4 linked regions of the Homo sapiens genome follow. The protein of the gene in region 1 purifies or fractionates together with the protein of each later gene. This does not show direct contact. Each region holds a gene or a part of one and is shown in the gene's direction. Other genes may lie near its edges.

Region 1 (5,175 bases):
GAAATTTAACTGTTAAAATATTTAAATAAGTACATGTATTACAGAGATGCAAATTCACATTAATAAAATATATGTGGGTCTGTACTGTGACATATGCAAAGTACATAATACCTAACCGGGTCTATGTTTAGAAGGAGGTAATTAGTATATCAACAGCTGCCTCCACTTTAACGGTTTGTTTGCCTCAAACCAATTTTGCTCGGTAGAGTGCATTATTCATGTGTGGCAAACACCCGCAGAACTTTTCACCCCAGGAGTGATAAAAGCGTGGGCTTACTATTTTTCGGTTGCAGTGATCTAAGGATTTGACAAATAAATGAAGCTGGGCTGCAACTAGATGAATGGCCTAGCTCCTTTAGAAAGTTAAGAAGCCGAGTACTCCTGGAGTGGTGGACTTCTGGAGGCAGGGCTGGCCCCAGGAGATAGGAGGTTGACTTTAATCCCAGAACAGGGGAATGGCAAGCAGAGGAGGAATTCGGTCCACCTGGTGGCGGCATCCTGGCACTTCTAGCCTTCGCTGATGGAAAGCCTGGTTGGGTGGGGTAGGGTAACAGGAGTCAACAGGTGACTTGCAGAAAGCAGCTGGAGGCCCAGGAGAGGACAGGCCTAGGAAATTGAATTCATTTTGATTACTAGGAGTGGAGGCATAAGGCTCTAAGGGCTCTGCTTTGCCCGGCTGCCCTCGTCTTTGCCTTGCCATCGGAGCCTCATGAAAATAAATAGTTGGCTTGTCAGGGTTGACTGACGCAGCTTGCTATGGGCTTTGCTCTTCTGGGCCACTTCAGAGTTTTCTCTTCATCTGTTATTTGGGAGATGGGGAAAAAAAGTTTGCTCCTTCAGCCATGCGAGACTTCTCTGTGGATAATTGGAGAATGAAATATTGCAGGCTGTTTGCAGGAAAGGCACATTTCTTCCTTTTAATTCATCATGGCTTTCTTAGGAAACCTGAGACCTTGTGTCTGTAGGGGACCACAGGGCAGGGTCCACGTGCTAAGTGTGCGTTATACGTGATCCTTACCTTGGCAATCAGCCTGCCTCTCTAATGAGGCATTTCCAGATACTTGAGGAAGGACTTGCCTTGGGACAGTGCCAGTAATGCTCCCTTTCACAGAGAGGAGGGTGGTTACAAATTCTATGCCAACGATGTTATTTCCTATTAGATTCCCAGAGTCCACCTTCTTATTTCATCTCCCCAGGTGCCTTAAAATATTGCAGTTTCATTTCCTTATTTTTTTCTGAAAAGACAAATTTCTCAGTGTCCTGAATGACACTAGTGTAGGCTTCCCAACTGCAGAACTGAAGCAGAAGGTTGCCTGTGATTTAAGAAGCAACTTTGAGAAGGAGGACTCGTGTGTGTGTGTGTGTGTGTGTGTGTGTGTGTGTGTGTGTGAGAGAGAGAGAGAGAAAATGTGTGTGTGTGTCTGTGTGTGTGTGTATGTATGCATGTGTTTGTTTTCCACCAAGAACCTGCCCAGGGAGGAAACTCAAAGGAAAACTGTATTGTATATAAGGCCATCAATTGTTAGGCTAGGCTGGGGGCCTGCAACTTTTGCCTTGGTGTCAGGCAGTACAGAAAGACACTGATCCTGAAAGCCAGACTCAGTGATCTAGATAAAGTAACCCAGGTGCAACCTGGGCCAACTGTGGATTCTGAAATCTATTACGGTTACAAACATCTTAACTGGAAACCATGCTTCAGATAAACCAATAGTCACAGGGATGTTCCATCATAGTCACCTAAACCTCCTGACTGGCTATGACATAATTTTTGCAGCATAAGAGGAGAGGCCTGCTCGGTTTGATAGTCATTTTGTATGGAACAGAGAATGCAATTTAATTTTCTTCTACTTGGGTTTTGGCTTCGAGTGGCTCCAGTCCTGTTTGCAAGGATGTAACATGTGCTTAAGTCTTGGACTGGTTGGAGAAGATGCAGGCATATGAGAACTGCATGGGGAGAAAGTCATTTTGTGTGTGCCTATTGGTGTTTTGCAGAGACCCCCTAAAATGTTTTAAGCCACTCGCTGAGGGTAGCCCTGCATATAGAGGTTTCTGTGTGGTATCAAATTACTGAGGACTGGAGTAGATAAGGGTGTGTACAGGAAATTAAAGCCTCTGACACTTCTAGATGATTAGTTTGAGGCATACATACAAATACATTTGAATTTCCTCAGGTTGAAAACTGAAAAAAGGCCAGTCTAGTTTCCTGGGTGGGGCACAAAGGGAGTTCCTGTGAACAAGGGGTAGGTATTTCCCTATTTAGAGTTATAGAAAAATAAGTTTGAGGTTGTGGTGACAAAATAATGACATAGATGACTGAGTGTGGTTAATGAGGCTCTATCTCACTGCTTTGTAGTCACACTTTTTCTTTCAGCCTGAGAATAGTCAAGTGGGCTTGCAATTAATGGGTGAGGCGAAACTGCTAGGTTTGTTACTCCTTTTTTTTTTCTAAAGAAACATCATTTCGAAGATGAGTTTCTGCATATTCAACCCAGAAGCAGACAGCTCAGGAAACTGTCTGTTGACATTTTCAACAGAGAGAGACATTTTTAAAGTCCTTGTCAAATTACTATGATGACTAAGGTAACCGTATTTTATTTAATCAAATTATTTTATACACTTATGCTTACTCAAAGTGACAAAATTCCTTGCCATTTCCATAATTACTATGTAGCCCCAGGTAGTAAGAAATAAAATTACCTTGATTTTTTTTTTCCTTATAGCTAGATTCAAAATGTTAATAATTATTAAGGGAAAAAGGTGTTTCTGAAAATTCTTTTCAGCCAGGTTTGTGTATTTATCTTTGTTTGTGAGGGGGTTTTTGTTGGTGTATTTAACAATAGAAGAAACTGAATGAGTTGTAAAATGAGCGAGGGCTCTATCCTGCATTTTGTTAACTCTTCCCCTCATTCAATTTTAGACACCTTATGAAAAGGATCGCCAAGAGGCCTCTCTGCAGTGGCACCGCCTTGCTAATCAATTGCCCAGCATTTGCAGCTCATCTTGGGTGCTGCTGGAATCGTGTTTTCTGTTATGCTGCATGGGCTGCTTCTTGCACGAAGTCATTGGTGAACTGCTGGGCAAAGGCAGCCCCACCAACAGGGTCTCTGTGAATTTATTTTGCACACCTAAAAGCAAACTTTGAGGTGCTGCCTTGATCAGGGACTGTATTCTCTTAGCAGATTGGCCTGGATGAACAAGGGTAGTATTGCAAAAATGATGAGGATACAGCTGCATTTCATGCAGAAAGAGTGAAGAATAAAACTCCCTACTAGCTGCATTTCTCTGGCTTTAGTTCCAACTCGCGCAGATTTCACTACATGCATCATTTAATAAGCATGTTTCTCTAAAGTGGAGTCAAAGTACTTCTCTTCTGCATATGTACTCTATTCTGTACATTGCCGCATGCATTGCATATTTACATACGTGTTTGTGTACAGCGTTGCATACAATGAATATTGTATGCCATACTTTTTGAAGGTGCGAAGGGACATTTCAATGGTAACTTTGACTGTATGGTTGACACATGGATTTGGAACCGTTCTCCCCTGAAGAAAATCTCGGTATTTTCTTGCCTCTCGGAAATGCCTTTGGTAATCTGTAGGCCAGAAAGATAGCATCCTTACTCTTTCAATTCATTTTTATTTTCGGTTTCTATGTCTGTATCTGGAAAACAGATATAAACAGGAAAAACAGTGGAATCATGGACCTTGGCTCATAGGATAAATGAATTGATGTGATTCAAAGACACTTGTATTTTATGTAGCCTAAGTGTTTATGTGTTAGCATGAGACAAATTATTGCTTAATGGTTAAAACTCCAAGTTAAATGATTACAGTTCCAAGGTGGAGAAAGGCAAGTGTCTGTGGCAGCTGTCGCTTATTCGATGAGTGTTAGAAGACTGGGATTCATGCCTATGTCCTCCCCTTACCTGCTCTGTGACCTTGAGCTGTTTACTTAATCTCTGTGTACCTCAATTTTTCATTTTATAACTGGGGTTATAATAGTACCTACCCTCTGTTTTGCTGTGAGGATGAACTGAGTCAGTACATGTAAAGCACCTTGAACAATATCTGGCACATAGTGAGTGCCCAGGAAATATTAGCTATTACTATTAATAATAATATGGTTATGCATATTTACTGCAAACATAATAACCGTGTAGCCCCAACCAATGAGAAATAAAATTATTTCAATTAAACTTTAGTTTTGGTTTAGTGAATTGCATATTCAAGTAGTTTCCTATTCTACATGGACATTTTTGTCTGGGAGGTAAAAAGTTTTTAAGGGCAAGTAATAAGCTAAATATCAGTTGCTAATTCTGTTTATTCCCTTATAAATATAGCAATCCATTTCATCTTAAAGATGCTATAAAAATTAGTCACATGGGAGAGGAGCCCACTGCAGGAATGGTGATTCATGTTGATCATTTACAGTCCATGGGTACTTGAAGGAGGTTAAAGCAGGGCAGGCAGGACTGGCTGGGCGGGGCAGGTACCCTGATGCTTCACTTTGGGAGGTCCTCAGTATCTCTTGCTGTGGTCTGTGGCCACTGGGTGCTGAAGGCTGAGGGTAGGTGGAAAGAATGTTGGACTTGGAGTTGGAAGACCTGGATTTGAACTTAGACTTGCTATTTCCCAGCTCCTGGCAACTTCACTTACTCGAGCCTCAATAGCCTCATCTGAAAAATGGGGATAATGATCAAGCTTATCTTACAGATGGTTGTGAGGTTTAAACAAATAGTCATGTGATAGAGTACTTCTCATAGGGTACAGTATTCCACAGTTGCTTTAACAGTAATGGTATAACCCTGCTCGTTGACATTAGCACCAACAAAAGTCCCTCCCAGGGAGCTGAGGATTTGGAATATTGTGTGAGGCCAAGGCTTCTGTTTCCTAAACTGGTGATCTGGGCTCCTGAAGCTTGCTCTGCTTCACTGGCTGAAAGGCTGAGTGACCAATTCAAGGGAGCCCGAGGTGTCAGGAGGGCGAGGACAAAGGGACATATGTTGTGGACATATGCTGCCCTCCAGGCAGCCTTGTTTAAAACGTGCCTTCGCAGAGCTCAGCCTTGGTTGCCCAGAGGGGCTCAGGTCTCACGTCTTGTCTGCTGCCTTCACCTCGTGTTCTCTTGCAGTATTAAGTGGACTCTGGCAAGCAGGTCTGTGGGCATTTCCCC
Region 2 (5,175 bases), on another chromosome or scaffold:
TGGTTTTGACCCAACTGCTTGCAGACAAATCAGCTAGCTCTCCCCTTAGGGGTCTGAAGAGCGGCTGCCCCTGCTCCCACATACACGGTCAATCCTTGTAGAGACTTAGGGTCAGCCAGGCGTGGTGGCTCATGTCTGTAATCCCAGCACTTTGGGAGGCCAAGGCGGGTTGATCATGAGGTCAAGAGATTGAGACCATCTTGGCCAACATGGTGAAACCCTGTCTCTACTAAAAGTACAAAAATTAGCCAGGCGTGGTGGTGGGTGCCTGTAATCCCAGCTACTCGGGAGGCTGAGGCAAGAGAATCACTTGAACCCGGGAGGCAGAGGTTGCAGTGAGCCAAGATCGTGCCACTGCACTCCAGCACGGTGACAGAGTGAGACTCCATCTCAAAAAAAAAAAAAAAGTTTGGAAAAAATAGCCATTAAAAGTACTAAAATATGAAGCTTTTTTTCTTCTACAATCTCTATTTTGACCTGTGATGTTTTTAATTTGCTATTTAATGTCATTCTAAGTAAGAAGCATTTAAATTATTAGCAGGAATTTTACCATTTGCTTAATATTGTGCAATGCCTGTTTTAAATACAAATATAAGGACATTTAACTCCTGTAGAATCACAGAAACGACATAATTAATATTTCTTAGCTTATACATGGATGTGTATTTAGTTCTTACCAGGAGAGGGTCTCCTCTGTCACTCAGACTGGAGTGCAGTGGTGCAAACATGGCTCACTGCAGCCTTGACCTCCTGGGTTCAAGTGATCCTCCCACCTCAGCCTCCCAAGTAGCTGGGACCACAAGTGCATGCCACCATGCCTGCCTAATTTTTGCATTTTTAGTAGAGACAGGGTCTCGCCATGTTGCCCAGTCTGGTCTCAAAATCCTGGGCTCAAGCACTTCTTCCATCACCACCTCCGAAAGTGCTGGGATTACAGGAGTGAGTCACCACACCTGGCCTTCAATTCTTTTTTTTTTTTTTTTTTTTTTTTTCAGACAGAGTTTCACTCTTGTTGCCCAGGCTGGAGTGCAATGGTGTGATCTTCTTGGCTCACCGCAACCTCCGCCTCCCAGGTTCAAGTGATTCTCCTGCCTCAGCCTCCCAAGTAGCTGGGATTACAGGCGCCCACCACCACACCCTGTTAATTTTTGTATTTTTAGCAGAGATGGGGTTTTACCATGTTGGCCAGGCTGGTCTCCAATTCCTGACCTCAAGTGATCTACCAGCCTCTGCCTTCCAAAGAGCTGGGATTACAGGTGTGTGCCACTGCACCCAGCCTTCAATTCTTTTCTTTTTTTTTATTGAGATGGAGTCTCACTCTGTCGCCCAGGCTGGAGTGCAGTGGTGAGATCTCGGCTTACTACAACCTCAGCCTCCCAAGTAGCTAGGATTACAGGCGCCTGCCACCACGCCCAGCTAATTTTTGTAGTTTTAGTAGAGATGGGGTTTCACTATCTTGGCCAGGCTGGTCTTGAACTCCTGACCATGTGATCCACCTGCCTTGGCCTCCCAAAGTTCTGAGATTACAGGCATGAGCCACCGCGCCCGGCCTTCAATTCTTAATACGTGCACATTCTGCCAGCACTGTTGGCTTGCTAGTTAATAAGGAAGGATGGAAAGGAAAAGGATGGATTGGTTACCCTATCTTCCCTTTCCTTTCTATATCGCTATTTGCAGCATAAATAGGTGGATAACACAAAAGCAAGAAAGGATGCAGCAGAGTTCCTTGGTCATTCGTGTTTCTTAGAACACCTCTGTCTTTGTGCACTTGAAGCACGTTCTAGTTTGAACTGAAAGCTTGGCCTCTTGGGTCAGTCATAGGTGTGCACTCGCCTTGTACTTGCTTTGAGTCTTGTTGAACTCCCATGCGTTGTGTGTCCCCCAGATTTGTGTGCTCATGGGCATTGCAGACTCTGTATAGGTATGATAAGCGAGGAACGGAGCACACTCACTGTGTGTGTCTCTTGCTCCCTGCATGTCCCACTGTCCTATCAGGCTCCACTTGCAAGACACAAGGTCAAAGATAAAATCATTAAGAATTTCAGGGTCGGGCACGGTGGCTCACCCCTGTAATCCCAGCACTTTGGGAGGCCAAGGTGGGCAAATCACGAGGTCAAGAGATCGAGACCATCCTGGCCCACATGGTGAAACCCCATCTCTATTAAAAATACAAAAATTAGCTGGGTGTGGTGGTGCACGCCTCTAGTCCCAGCTACTCAGGAGGCTGAGGCAGGAGAATCGCCTGAACCTGGGAGGCAGAGGTTGCAGTGAGCTGAGATTGCACCACTGCACCCCTGCCTGACGACAGAGTGAGACTCCCTCTCAAAAACAAACAAACAAACAAAAATTTCAGGCTTGGCCAGGCACAGTGGCTCACACCTGTAATCCCAGCACTTTGAAAGGCCGAGGCAGGCGGATCACCTAAGGTCAGGAGTTTGAGACCAGCCTGGCCAACGTGGCAAAACCCTGTCTCTACTAAAAATACAAAAAATTGCCGGGCATGGTGGTGTGAGCCTGTAATCCCAGCTACTCGGGAGGCTGAGGCAGGAGAATCACTTGAACCTGGGAGGTGGAGGTTGCAGTGAGCCGAGATTGCACCACTGCACTCCAGTCTGGGCAACAGAGCGAGACTCTGTCTCAAAAAAAAAAAAAAAAGAATTTCAGGTGGGACACGGTGGCTCACACCTGTAATCCTAACACTTTGGGAGGCCAAGGCAGGAGGATTTGTTGAGCCCAGGAGTTCGAGACCAGCCTAGACAACAAACTGAGACCCCATCTCTACAAAAAAGATAATTGGGATTACAGGTGCCCATCACCACACCCGGCTAATTTTTGTATTTTTAGTAGAGACGGGGTTTCACCATGTTAGTCAGGCTGGTCTTGAACTCCTGACCTCAGATGATCCACCTGCCTCGGCCTCCCAAAGTGCTGGGATTACAGGCGTGAGACACCACACCCAGCCTCAGATGATTTTTTTTTTTTTTTTTTTGAGACAGGGTCTTGTTTTGTCACCCAGGCTGGAGTACAGTGGTGCAATCATGGCTTACTGCAGCTTCACCCTCCCGGGCTCAAGCAATCCTCCTGCCTCAGCTACCTGAGTAGCTGGGACCACAGGCGTGTGCCACCACGCCCAGCTATTCTTTTTTTTGTGTGTGTAGAGACCCTATAGGGCACAATGTTGCCCAGGCTGGTCTCGAACTCCTGGGCTCAAGTGATCCTCTCTCCTTCCCTCCCAAGGTGCTGGGATTACAGGTGTGAGCCACTGTACCCAACCTTCTTCAGATGATTAGGATGCATGCTAAAGTCTGACCACCACTGTTCTTTCTGAAATATTTTTTCTACCTCATTTCAGCCTCCTAATTCCTACTCCTTCTTCCCTGCAAATGTCACTTCATCAGAGGTGCTAGACCCTGGGCTAGATTAAACCCCTCACTCTCCAAGTCTCTCTTTTTTTTTAGACAGAGTCTCACTCTTTGGCCTGGGCTGCAGTGCAGTGGTGCGATGCCCAATTCTCCTGCCTCAGCCTCCTGAGTAGCTGGGACTACAAGCGTGTGCCACCACACCCGACTAAGTTTTGTATTTTTAGTAGAGACAGGGTTTCGCCATGTTAGTCAGGCTGGTCTCGAACTCCTGACCTCAGGTGATCCGCCCACCTCGGCCTCCCAAAGTTCTGGGATTACAGGTGTGAGCCACTGCGCCTGGCCTCTCCAATTTTCTTCTGTGAGTTCCTCAGTTCATGTCTCCCTGATAGATTTTGAGTTCTAGGTGTGTCCGTCTCATTCTCCATCTTGTCCTGAGTGCTAAGCAGGGCAAACAGTAGGCACATAATAAGTGAGAGTGGAATTGCATTGGCTCACAGGGTCACCAAAGGAATGGAGATGTGGGGCCTGCAGGCATCACGAAGGAGTCTAGGGGAGCTAGGGAGAAAAGGCTAATCATAGGCCACCCACTCGCCCTCTAGGTACAGCCTGTACACCCGCACCTGGCTCGGGTACCTCTTCTACCGACAGCAGCTGCGCAGGGCTCGGAATCGCTACCCTAAAGGCCACTCGAAAACCCAGCCCCGCCTCTTCAATGGTGAGCTCTGACTGCCCCGGCCAGCATCCCCCATTCTGTGCCCCCACCCTCCCCGCCTGCTCCCCTTCACATACCCCAGCCCCTGGGCTCCCTGCCTGTTACCCCGCCCACAGCCCATCTCTGTCCCCAGGAGTGAAGGTGCTTCCCATCCCTGTCCTCTCGGACAACTACAGCTACCTCATCATCGACACCCAGGCCCAGCTGGCTGTGGCTGTGGACCCTTCAGACCCTCGGGCTGTGCAGGTGAGGGGAGGGCAGGGAGCAGGGGGTGCCTGGAGTCACCTTGGGGACTGGCAGTTTCGCCTTGCTAGAGAGGGCTGACCCTTGTCCGTCTGCCCGTGGGATGTGTCCCATATGCTCCATGTTCACACGTGCACATGCGCACACATAGCCTGGGGAAGGGGGGTACAGGGCATGGCTGGGCAGAAGGGGAGAGCAGGAGTGGGGGATGCAGAGCCAGAGGGCTGGGGGTGTTGGCCCAGGACTCTGGGTCTAGTGAGTTTCCAGGCTGGCTTTCACTCCCATTGGCCCCCTTCAGACCCCCTTTCTTTCTGTCACCTCTGTCTGTCAGTATCTGGGTCTCTCTGTCTTTCCCTCCCATTCCTTATCTCTCTGTGTCTGCCTCTCTCTATGTACAAGTGTCCCTCTGCCTCCATGTGCCCCGTGCTTCACATTCCTGGATCTCTCCCCTCCAGCTCCATCCCTTTCCTCTGCTTCATCTCTCCATGCTCTCCTCTCCTCTCCACCAGCGCCCACACTCCTGGCTCTTGCTGCTTCAAGTGCCTCTTGCATCCTGCTCCCCAGTCTCCAAACCTCCTCTCTCTCGCAGGCTTCCATTGAAAAGGAAGGGGTCACCTTGGTCGCCATTCTGTGTACTCACAAGCACTGGTAAGGGGCTCCCGTCTTCCCTGGCCCACCCTTGTCCCAGCTGGGCTTGCCAGGACTGGGCCCATTGAGGACGGCCGGGGCCAGAGATCAAGAAGTCAGTACGGGCCGGCACCCGCCTTCCTCGTGAAGTCACCTGGACACCAGCAGGGAGGGAGGAGAGGGGACAGTCTCCCACCACTCCATTGATCAAGCTTCTGAAGCCCCAGAGGG
Region 3 (5,175 bases), on another chromosome or scaffold:
CATCCATTATTAGATGAGAAAATAAAGCTGTGTACCAAAGGAGTAATAGGAATGTACAGGTGAGAGTGTTTCACATTTAACAATTTTTTTTTTTTTTTGAGACAGAGTTTCACTCTGTCACCCAGGCTGGAGTGCAGTGGTGCAGTCTCGGCTCACTGCAACCTCCGCCTCCCAGCTTCAACTGATTCACCTGCCTCAGCCTGCTTAGTAGCTGTGATTACAGGTGCCCACGACCACACCTAGCTAATTTTTATATTTTTAGTGGAGATGGGTTTCACCATGTTGGCAAGCCTGGTCTCAAACTCCTAACCTCAGGTGATCTGCCAGCCTCAGCCTCCCAAAGTGCTGGGATTACAGGCATGAGCCACCGTGCCTGGCAGCAAAATGTATTTTTGCATTTCACTCACAATAGTCCTGAAGTGGGGTTGATCCTTAGAGATACAAGTGGAAAACTGAGGCTCGGGGACATTGAATGGCTTACCTAGGGTCAAAGGGCTTCTAAATGACAAAGTCTGGAGCTCAGGTCTTCAGACTTCAAATGGAAAGCTTTTATCTATATCCTATTCCCTCTCTCTCACTGCAATTAAAATAAGAGAAATGTGTTCGACTAGAGGCCTGGGGAGGTCACATGGAAAAAGAGTGGACCCCACTAAGTCTGATTTGGGTTAATGAAGAATAGGCAAGACTTACCCCAAGCCCAGATAACACACTTTTGACAAGTGTGGCATCTATGGATACAAAAAACCACTAATGGTAATGAAGCATCTTTTAAACTTCTTAAAATTTCAACTCATAATAAGAAATACACTTTACATTTCAGTGTATTGTGCACTAACATACCTTTGTGCCAAAACAAAATTTCATGAACCAGTAATTAAATATATACAGTATACCAATTTATGCTATTTTAGTTGTTTAAAAAATGCCAGCCATGATGCAGCAAGAGGTTGTTGACCATACTTTGAATCTCAAACACCAGACCAGAAGGTTCCAACGGTCCCTAGTAGTAACAGGTAATGCTGAATAGATAATAAGGGGCCAGGCTGGAGGGATGTGAAGTGCCAGGACTGGCACTAGGGTTGAAAGTTCTTTTACCACCAAATACTCAACCTTTCTGAAAGGTTTTCATCCTATCACTTAGGCAGACTTTCATCATGGTAATGTATAGAAGGGAAGATTATAAATGTTAAGTTTGGGTAATATGAGAGTTTAAAAAAATTCCTTTAGCTATGTATTACATTTGCATTGGAAAGGTATTACATATTTTGAAAGTACTATTAATGCTTTTTGATCCTTTGCTGTTTTTAAAGGAAAATGATGCTGCTGCTCTATGAAGAAGGCCTCCGGGTTGTCATACACACCTCCAACCTCATCCATGCTGACTGGCACCAGAAAACTCAAGGGTTCGTAGGGGCCTGCTCACTTCCTGGCAGTGTGTGTGTTGATAAAGGTCAAAAGCCAGAACATTCACTTTATTCTTTTTTCTATTTTTTTTTTAAGTTGTAAAAATAACACACATGGCCTAGAAAAAGAGTTGTATGCAGAAAAAGTTACTGTATTCTTTTACTACCTGCCCCATTCTACCTTCTTGGGGTAACCAGTGTTAACAGGAGCATCATCATCCACAGCTACCTCTGCTGTACATGTAAACATACATTACTATTTACACACAGTAGTCTCTTCCTAGTTTTTAGAGAAGTGGCATCATATACACTCTACAGCTAAGTAGAGGGCACAGCACATGCAGAGATCTGAGGCAGAAAAGGGGTTACAGAATGAAAGATCTGAACCTATTGTTTTCCTAGTAGGATTTACCAGATAGCTTTTGTGATTTCTCCTTACTCATGTACCCACCTGTATTTTTGCTTACCACTTCCCAAACAGGAATCAAAGGAAAAGTTGGGGTAGGGCCTGGTCATGTTAATAGTGTGCTAAATATTTCCCCACTCCCCCAGTTGGTGTATTTTCTTTGAAACAAATTTAAGCTGGTGTCTTTTTAGAGCCTTTAGTGTGTTAATAAAGTTGTGAATCTCCAAGAGAAGAACTGAATACGAAAGCTTTTATGAACTTTTTAAACTACTAACCCTCTGTACTTGGTGCACATATGCTAGATCCAGGTTTTGATCCCCTTTTCAAGAGGGGTTTGCTTTTTAAAAGGGAGCTTTAGGGATTTGCTCAACAAGTTCAGCTATTGTTCTTGATTATGACTAACTTTAATTTTCTTTTGTTTAAGCCATTTTGTACATCTCTGCCTGTGCTAGAGAAGAGCTGGTTAACAAACAGCCTTCTGTGTTGGGAGAAACTCGGACGTTTGTCTAGCACCATTTCCAGGTTCACGTTTTCTCTGTCATCCTCCTCTGCCTCACCCTGCCCCATATCATTGCCTAGCTTGGGCTAGAACTCCTAATTTGGAGTGTATTACTTTCAGCTAAGCTCTGCTGAGCCCAGGTTACATCTTTGTTTTGTTTGTTTTTTTGAGACGGTCTCACTCTGTCACCCAGGTTACAATGCTGTGATGCGATCACGGCTCACTTTAACCTCAACCTCCTGGGCTCAGGTGATCCTCCCACCTCAGCCTTCTGGGTAACTGGGACTGCAGGCACGTACCACCACACTTGGCTAACTGTCTTTATTTTTTGTAGAGACAAGGTTTTGCCTAGTTGCCAAGTGATCCGCCTGCCTCAGCCTCCCAAAGTGCTGAGATTACAGGCATGAACCACCGTGCCTGGCCCCAAGTTACATCTTAGTTTGAGCTGAAATAGCTTTCCAGTTTCCTTCAACAGGTCTTGCTTCAACCTGAGTGCACTGCGCAGGACAAATGTAATCTCCCTCCCTTAAAGCAGTCCTTCAGAGTTTGAAAGGGAGTCTTGTTTCTGAGCCTTACATCTCTTGTTCCCTCCCCACTCCCTTGCCCCACCATAGCATGTGGCTTTGAGACCCCTAGCTGTAATTCCTGGTCGCTTTTCTATAAACATGTTATAATTTTTCAGTATCCCACTGAAAATATGCTTTTCAAAATGAAGTGTGGCTCTGACTGGTCCAGGGTTGAGGGGATAGCTGCTTGGTCTCTAAGTCTCAGCTGTAGCACTTTCTTGATCTACTGAATTTATGGTTAACTATGCCTTTGGTACCCCAAGAGCTTCTAAGCCAGTTCTCCTGAGCTGCCAGATTGGGTTTGGGGATTCATGTGGCCCTATCAAAAGGCAATGAGATTAATGTAGCTTGTTCTCATGAAACAATGTTACTAAAGGGATTTCTCAGGTTAGCTCTCAGCCTCACGTGGTTCCAAGAATCCCACCCTGGGCCTCCAGCTCCTTCTGAAGTTGGAAGCTTAGCTTACAGGCAGTAGTACTGTCTTGGGATTCTCTGGGGTGGTTGCCAGGAGGGAAGAGGCAGGGATAAGGGCTTGGGTGTTTCTTTTATTTAAAAAAAGTATTTTTTAATTTAAAATTTTGGAAAACTTATTGACTAGGTAGGAACGGTTCAAAACTCAGAAAGTACCAAGACTATGAAATCTTCCTCTGGCAGCCATCCTGGTGTGGGATCCTATTATTTCATGCTTGGCCTATATTCTACTCTCTAATGTTTTGCATTTCATGTTATTTGTGGTAATTTTAAAACTTTTGAAAGCAGTTTTTGTATACAATCTCACTTCATAATTGGTCTACTGTGGTTCTGCTAATCCCCTTCAGCTGCCTCATGATCCACCTGTTGATTTCTCACTTTTTAAAATTAGAACAAGAGTTGCATCCAAAGCTCACAGTAAAGAATAAAATAAAATTATTTGGCTCATTATAATAATTTTCTCATTTTGTGATGTGTTAAAAATGCCTCATATCTCAGCATCTTAGTTTAGAAAGTCATTTGTCTTGTTTCTCATCCAGAACTCACCTGTGAGTGAATCTCTGATCCAGGAGGAGCCTCACTCAGCCTGGGAACTTTGAGGTGCTATTGCAAGGGGAGGTCCTCCACGTCTGTCCAGCCCAACCTGGTCATTTTACACACGGAGGCAAAGGCCCAGAGAGATCACAGAGCTTACCCAAAATGGTATAGTCAGCTAGTCGATCTGGGTCCAGAACATGGGCTCCAGCCCTCATCACACCATGCTACCTCCTGTGCTAAGTGTCTCCCCAGGGTGGGAAGCAGGGGTATGAAATGCCCCTTGCTAGAAACTTGCAGAGTTGAGAAGATGTACGGCCGAGAGTCCTTGCAGTTCTGGATGCCTTCTGCCCTGGTGGCCTGCATCTTGCCAGTCTCCTTCAGGGGCTGCCAGGTGAAAGAGAAATTGGGCAGTTTCTCTTTCAGCTTAATAGATAGAACCCAGGGTGGGGAAAAGGAGAGTAGCCACAGAAGGGGAAAAAAGTAACACCTGATACTTTTGACTGCTCCTGTAAGTCATTGCTTTGCAACAGCCCAGTGAGGCAGCCTTGTTAACCCCACTTTTTTGCATTTGAAGAAACTGAAGCACAAGAGGTTTGAAGCCATTTTAGTAATCTACTGTGGAGCAGTTTATAGAAGGATTGGGATTAGATATGATTGTTTTCTATTTATGGATATAATGTAGAAGTTTTGGCAAAGAGCATTGTTTTCCTCTAGGGAAAAAGAATTAATGAAATGAAAGATGTCTGTAATGCTTCTTCAGTGAATTAAGTGTTGAAAGTTTGAGGTTATTGTAATGTCACTGAATGTGATATATACTTAATCCAGGCACCAGAAAGTATAAGACATAAAAATATGCTGCTATAGGACCTACGTTATGAAAATGGGTTTGTTAATTGAAAATAGATTTTTCACATGCACTTTTGGTATAGATAACACAATTCTTATTTCACATTTGGCTGAAGAGCTGCATTGATGCAGACAAGGGCAAATTCTTGCTTGGGATTACCACTAGTAGCATGGATTTGCTTTAACCGTTAAGAGTAGAATTCTTAACTCTTGTCATCAAGTCTTAGAAAGCAATATATAGGTGCAGAGGTAAGAGGAGCAATAAGGAAGGTTTGGCAAGTGAGAGGGAGCATGGAGGGATGTGGGTTGGAAGAGGTGGGCAGAGCCCAGGTCTTACTGAATCTTAAATTCATGGCAAGACATTCAGGAATAATTCTGAATGTGATGAGAAACCATTGGAGTGGTGTTCTCAGATTTATGTTTCATGTTTCCTAAGATTACTTACCA
Region 4 (3,918 bases), about 50 Mb from region 1:
TTCAGTACAGTAACATGCTGTACAGGTTTTTAGCCTAGAGCAATAGGCTTATACATATAGCCGAGGTATGTAGTAGGCTATATAACATCTAGATTTGTGTAAGTATATTCTGTGAAGTTCACACAGCTATGAAATTGCCTAATGATGCAGTTCTCAGAATGTATCCCTATCATTAAGTATACGTGACTGTATGTAGTATGCAAATATTTTCTCCAATTCTGTAGGTTGCTTTTCATTCTGTTGTGTGCTTCCCTTGCTGTGCAGAAGCTTTTTAGTTTGATGTAGTCCCATTGGTCTGTTTTGCTCTTGTTTTGTGCTTTTGGTGTCTTAGACAAGAAATCACTGCTAAGACCAATTTCAAGAAACTTAGGTTGTCTTCTAGGAGTTTTGTGGTTTCAAATCTTATGTCTAATTCTTTAATCTATTTTGACTTGTCTAAGTCTTTAATCTATTTTGAGTTGATTTTTGTGTATAGTGAAGATGAGTTACTTTCATTCTTTCTCATGTGAATATCTAGTTTTTCCAGCACCATTTGTTGAGGAAACTGTCAGTTTCCCCACTGTGTAGTGTTGTCTCTCTTTTCGAAGATCAGTTGACCATGTATGTGTAGTTTTATTTCTGGGCTTTCTATTTTGTTCCACTTGGTCATAGTATGTGATTCTTTCAACGTGCCGTTAAATTCTGTTTTCCATTGTTTCATTGAAGATTTTTGCGTCTGCTCATCAGGGATATTGGCCTGTCGTTTCTCTTCTTGTCATGTCTTTGGCTTTGGCATTAGGGTAATGCTGGCCTCATAGAATAAGTTTGGAAGTTCCTTCCAAATAAATGTTTTCGTCTTTAATTTTTTTGAAAGCGTTTAAGAAGGATTAGTGTTACTTTGTCTTTAAGTACCTGGTAGGACTCAACTAAAGAAGCCATCTGGTCCTGGGCTGTTTTTTTGTTGGGATGTTTTTGATTACTGATGGAATCTTGTTGTAGGTCTTACCAGGTTGTGTGTTCCCCCCCCGGATTTTCTATTCCTTGATGATTCAGTCTTGGTAGATTGTATACTTCTAGGAATTATATATTTTGTTCTAGGTTATCCAGTTTCTTGGCATATTTTTAAAAATGTTTTGTATATTTTTATTGAAATTCTTACTTTGTTCATGCATTGTTCTCCTGAGTTCGTTGAACATCTTCATGATAGTTGTTTTGCATTCTCTTTCAAATAATTCCTATACCTCTGTTTCACTGGGGTTGGTTTCCAGAGATTTATCTTCTTCCTTTGTTTGGGCCATGTTTCACTGATTCTCTATTTTCCTTAATTCTTTGTGTTGGTTTCATTGCATTAGAAAAAAAAACAGTTACCTTTCCAGTGTTCATGGACTGGCATTGTACAGGAGAACACCCTCATCAATCATTCTGATAGCCTCTCTAACCCACTCTGTATTATGTCTTTTCTGGACTTCTGCATATGTATTCCCAATCAGAGGGATTTGCTGGGTTTTTCCCTCCCCAGGAATTTATAATCTCTTGCTCCCTTTTGTGTTTATCTGCTGTATCATGGGTCTCCTGGAGCCAGTGGCATAGCCCAGCTCTTTTTTTGTTCATACTGGCCCCAGGCACCTAAAATATACTGGTCCCATCTGTGCTTCAAACCATTCCCTACAGAAACCATTCCCTCAGGTAACCTCTTACAAAGTTGGAACATTTTCACAGTCCATCTCTCCTCCCTAGGGAAAAGCTAGGATTTGGGGATGTTGGGGATTCTACCTGCTTACTCTGCACTGAGCTGGGGGAGCGGCTGTAGTGAGCTCATGCTTGCTAGTCCAAACTTCCACTTTGATTTCAGCAACTTCCAACCTGGGCCCTTTGTTTTTAGCTCTCGGACTCAGGCAAGACAGAAAACAGTCTCTCGTGCAGGTTCCAGAAAAGTCAGAATGTTGGATGTACATTCCAGTCATTTCCTTCCCTCTGCAAAAAGAAGCTGGGAGCTGAGGGTTTCCTCTCTATCATGTGGTACTGTGCTGGGTCCATGGGAAGGGAAGAATTATGGCAAGAGGGTGCCTCAGGTTTTTCTGCCGACTTTGATTCAGCTGGTTTCATGCTTTCCTATAGTGCAGAAGACCCTCAACTGGTTTCTGGATTTCCCACAAAGGGAATTTTTCCATGTGTTATTGAATCAGTGTGTCTGTAGAGGGAAGGAGTGTCCAGGGCTTCCTATTCTGTCATCTTGCTGACATCACTTTCTCCAAGGCCTTTTTTTCCCTTAAAACTGAAAAAGACCTTAAATGAATTACAGGAGAAACAATTTACATGATGGACCAGGAATCAAAATGGCATAAGGCTCTTCAACAACATCTTTGGGAGCCAGAACAAAGCCTTTGAATTCTGAGGAAAATCATTTTCAACCTAGAATTCTGTACTCAACTAAACTATCATTATGAGGGTAAAATAAAGATGTTTCTAGTCACACAAGAAGTAAAATAATTGATGTTCTATATGCAGTTTCTGAAGAAAGTAGGGGAAAATGTTCTCCACAAAAATGAGGAAGCTAGGAAAAAGACTTGGGATCTAGGAAATAAAGGGTCCAACACAGAGACAAGAAAAATTCCCAGTATGATGTAAGAAATTCTCAGGTTGGCAGCTGGGCACCAGGCTTGGATGGAGTGGAGAACAGAGAGCATCGGAAAGGATATTTTTAAGAAAAAGGGAAACATCTATAGATTATCTGATGTGATTGATTATATTCAAAAAGGATTTGTAGTTCTGTCAGTTTGTGATACAATAGTGAGAGGTACTTCGCAAATGAAGCAAAAGAAAAATGAAAATTAACTCTAAGGTATAAAATTGCCTAAGAAGGGAAATTTAAGGGTAGTACATTAATTATTTTAATTGAAATGGGATACTGTAAATACTATATTAAATTAAATGTAATTTTATTTTTTACATGATTTTTAAAAAGTGTAGTAAAAAACACATAACAAATCAACCCTCCTAACCATTCTAAAGTGCAAAGTGCTAACTAGGTGCACGTCTTTGCCCTCATCCTTCACTGGGTCTTCAAGTGAAATTCCTGAATTAGAGGAGTTACACATTTTTATTAAAGCCTAATCTTATGTAAATATTTGTTTACATAAGATCTTAGCTGACTCTATACATTTCCTTCTGAGTGCTGATTTTCTGTCCAGAAGCCTAGAGCTTTTGATTTAGTTGTTCTTGGGTGAGGTCTGGACATCTGTATGTTCAAAATCTTCACAAATGTTTAGGAACCATTTCTCTAAACATTTAATTAACATAAAGTACTCGTGGAAGATGTTTGCTTGGATAGTCTGTATAGAAGATATTTGGAATATAGATCATTTTAACCTAATATACTTCAACCTTTTTTTTTTTCCCTAGGAACGAATGATCACACACTTTGAAAGGTCCAAAATGGAGTAAGGAATGGGAAGATTTGCAGTTAAAGATGGCTACCATCAGGGAAGAGATCAGCATCTGTGTCAGTCTTCTGTACGGCTCCATGGGATTAAAGGAAGCAATGACATCCTGATCTGTTCCTTGATCTTTGGGCATTGGAGTTGGCGAGAGGTGTCAGAACAAAGAGAACATCTTACTGAAAACAAGTTCATAAGATGAGAAAAATCTACGAGCTTCTTATTTACAACACTGCTGCCCCCTTTCCTCCCAGACTCTGACATGGATGTTCATGCAACTTAAGTGTGTTGTTCCTGAACTTTCTGTAATGTTTCATTTTTTAAATCTGACAAACTAAAAAGTTTAACGTCTTCTAAAAGATTGTCATCAACACCATAATATGTAATCTCCAGGAGCAACTGCCTGTAATTTTTATTTATTTAGGGAGTTACATAGGTGATGGGGGAAATTGTTAACTACCTTTCATTTTCCTGGGAAGTCAAGGTTACATCTTGCAGAGGT

The links. Proteins that work in one complex are often made in the same cells at the same time.
Region 2: the proteins of SLCO3A1 (region 1) and PNKD purify together in Homo sapiens (affinity purification with mass spectrometry; one large-scale study listed by BioGRID and IntAct). This does not show direct contact.
Region 3: the proteins of SLCO3A1 (region 1) and TDP1 purify together in Homo sapiens (affinity purification with mass spectrometry; one large-scale study listed by BioGRID and IntAct). This does not show direct contact.
Region 4: the proteins of SLCO3A1 (region 1) and TMEM87A fractionate together in Homo sapiens (co-fractionation; one large-scale study listed by BioGRID). This does not show direct contact.

Annotation. Positions count from the first base shown.
Region 1 is NC_000015.10:91,855,681-91,860,855, forward strand, and holds part of SLCO3A1 (solute carrier organic anion transporter family member 3A1), read left to right. Parts: intron 1-5,175. UniProt on the Homo sapiens protein: Putative organic anion antiporter with apparent broad substrate specificity.
Region 2 is NC_000002.12:218,335,822-218,340,996, forward strand, and holds part of PNKD (probable thioesterase PNKD isoform 1 precursor), read left to right. Parts: intron 1-3,961; coding exon 3,962-4,077; intron 4,078-4,207; coding exon 4,208-4,320; intron 4,321-4,906; coding exon 4,907-4,965; intron 4,966-5,175. UniProt on the Homo sapiens protein: Probable thioesterase that may play a role in cellular detoxification processes; it likely acts on a yet-unknown alpha-hydroxythioester substrate.
Region 3 is NC_000014.9:89,979,230-89,984,404, forward strand, and holds part of TDP1 (tyrosyl-DNA phosphodiesterase 1), read left to right. Parts: intron 1-1,310; coding exon 1,311-1,403; exon of another isoform or gene 1,404-1,450; intron 1,451-2,233; exon of another isoform or gene 2,234-2,331; intron 2,332-3,884; exon of another isoform or gene 3,885-4,047; intron 4,048-5,175. UniProt on the Homo sapiens protein: DNA repair enzyme that can remove a variety of covalent adducts from DNA through hydrolysis of a 3'-phosphodiester bond, giving rise to DNA with a free 3' phosphate.
Region 4 is NC_000015.10:42,211,213-42,215,130, reverse strand, and holds part of TMEM87A (transmembrane protein 87A isoform 1 precursor), read left to right. Parts: intron 1-3,381; coding exon 3,382-3,423; 3' UTR 3,424-3,918. UniProt on the Homo sapiens protein: Potential monoatomic ion channel gated by mechanical force, implicated in normal touch sensitivity through the generation of mechanically activated currents.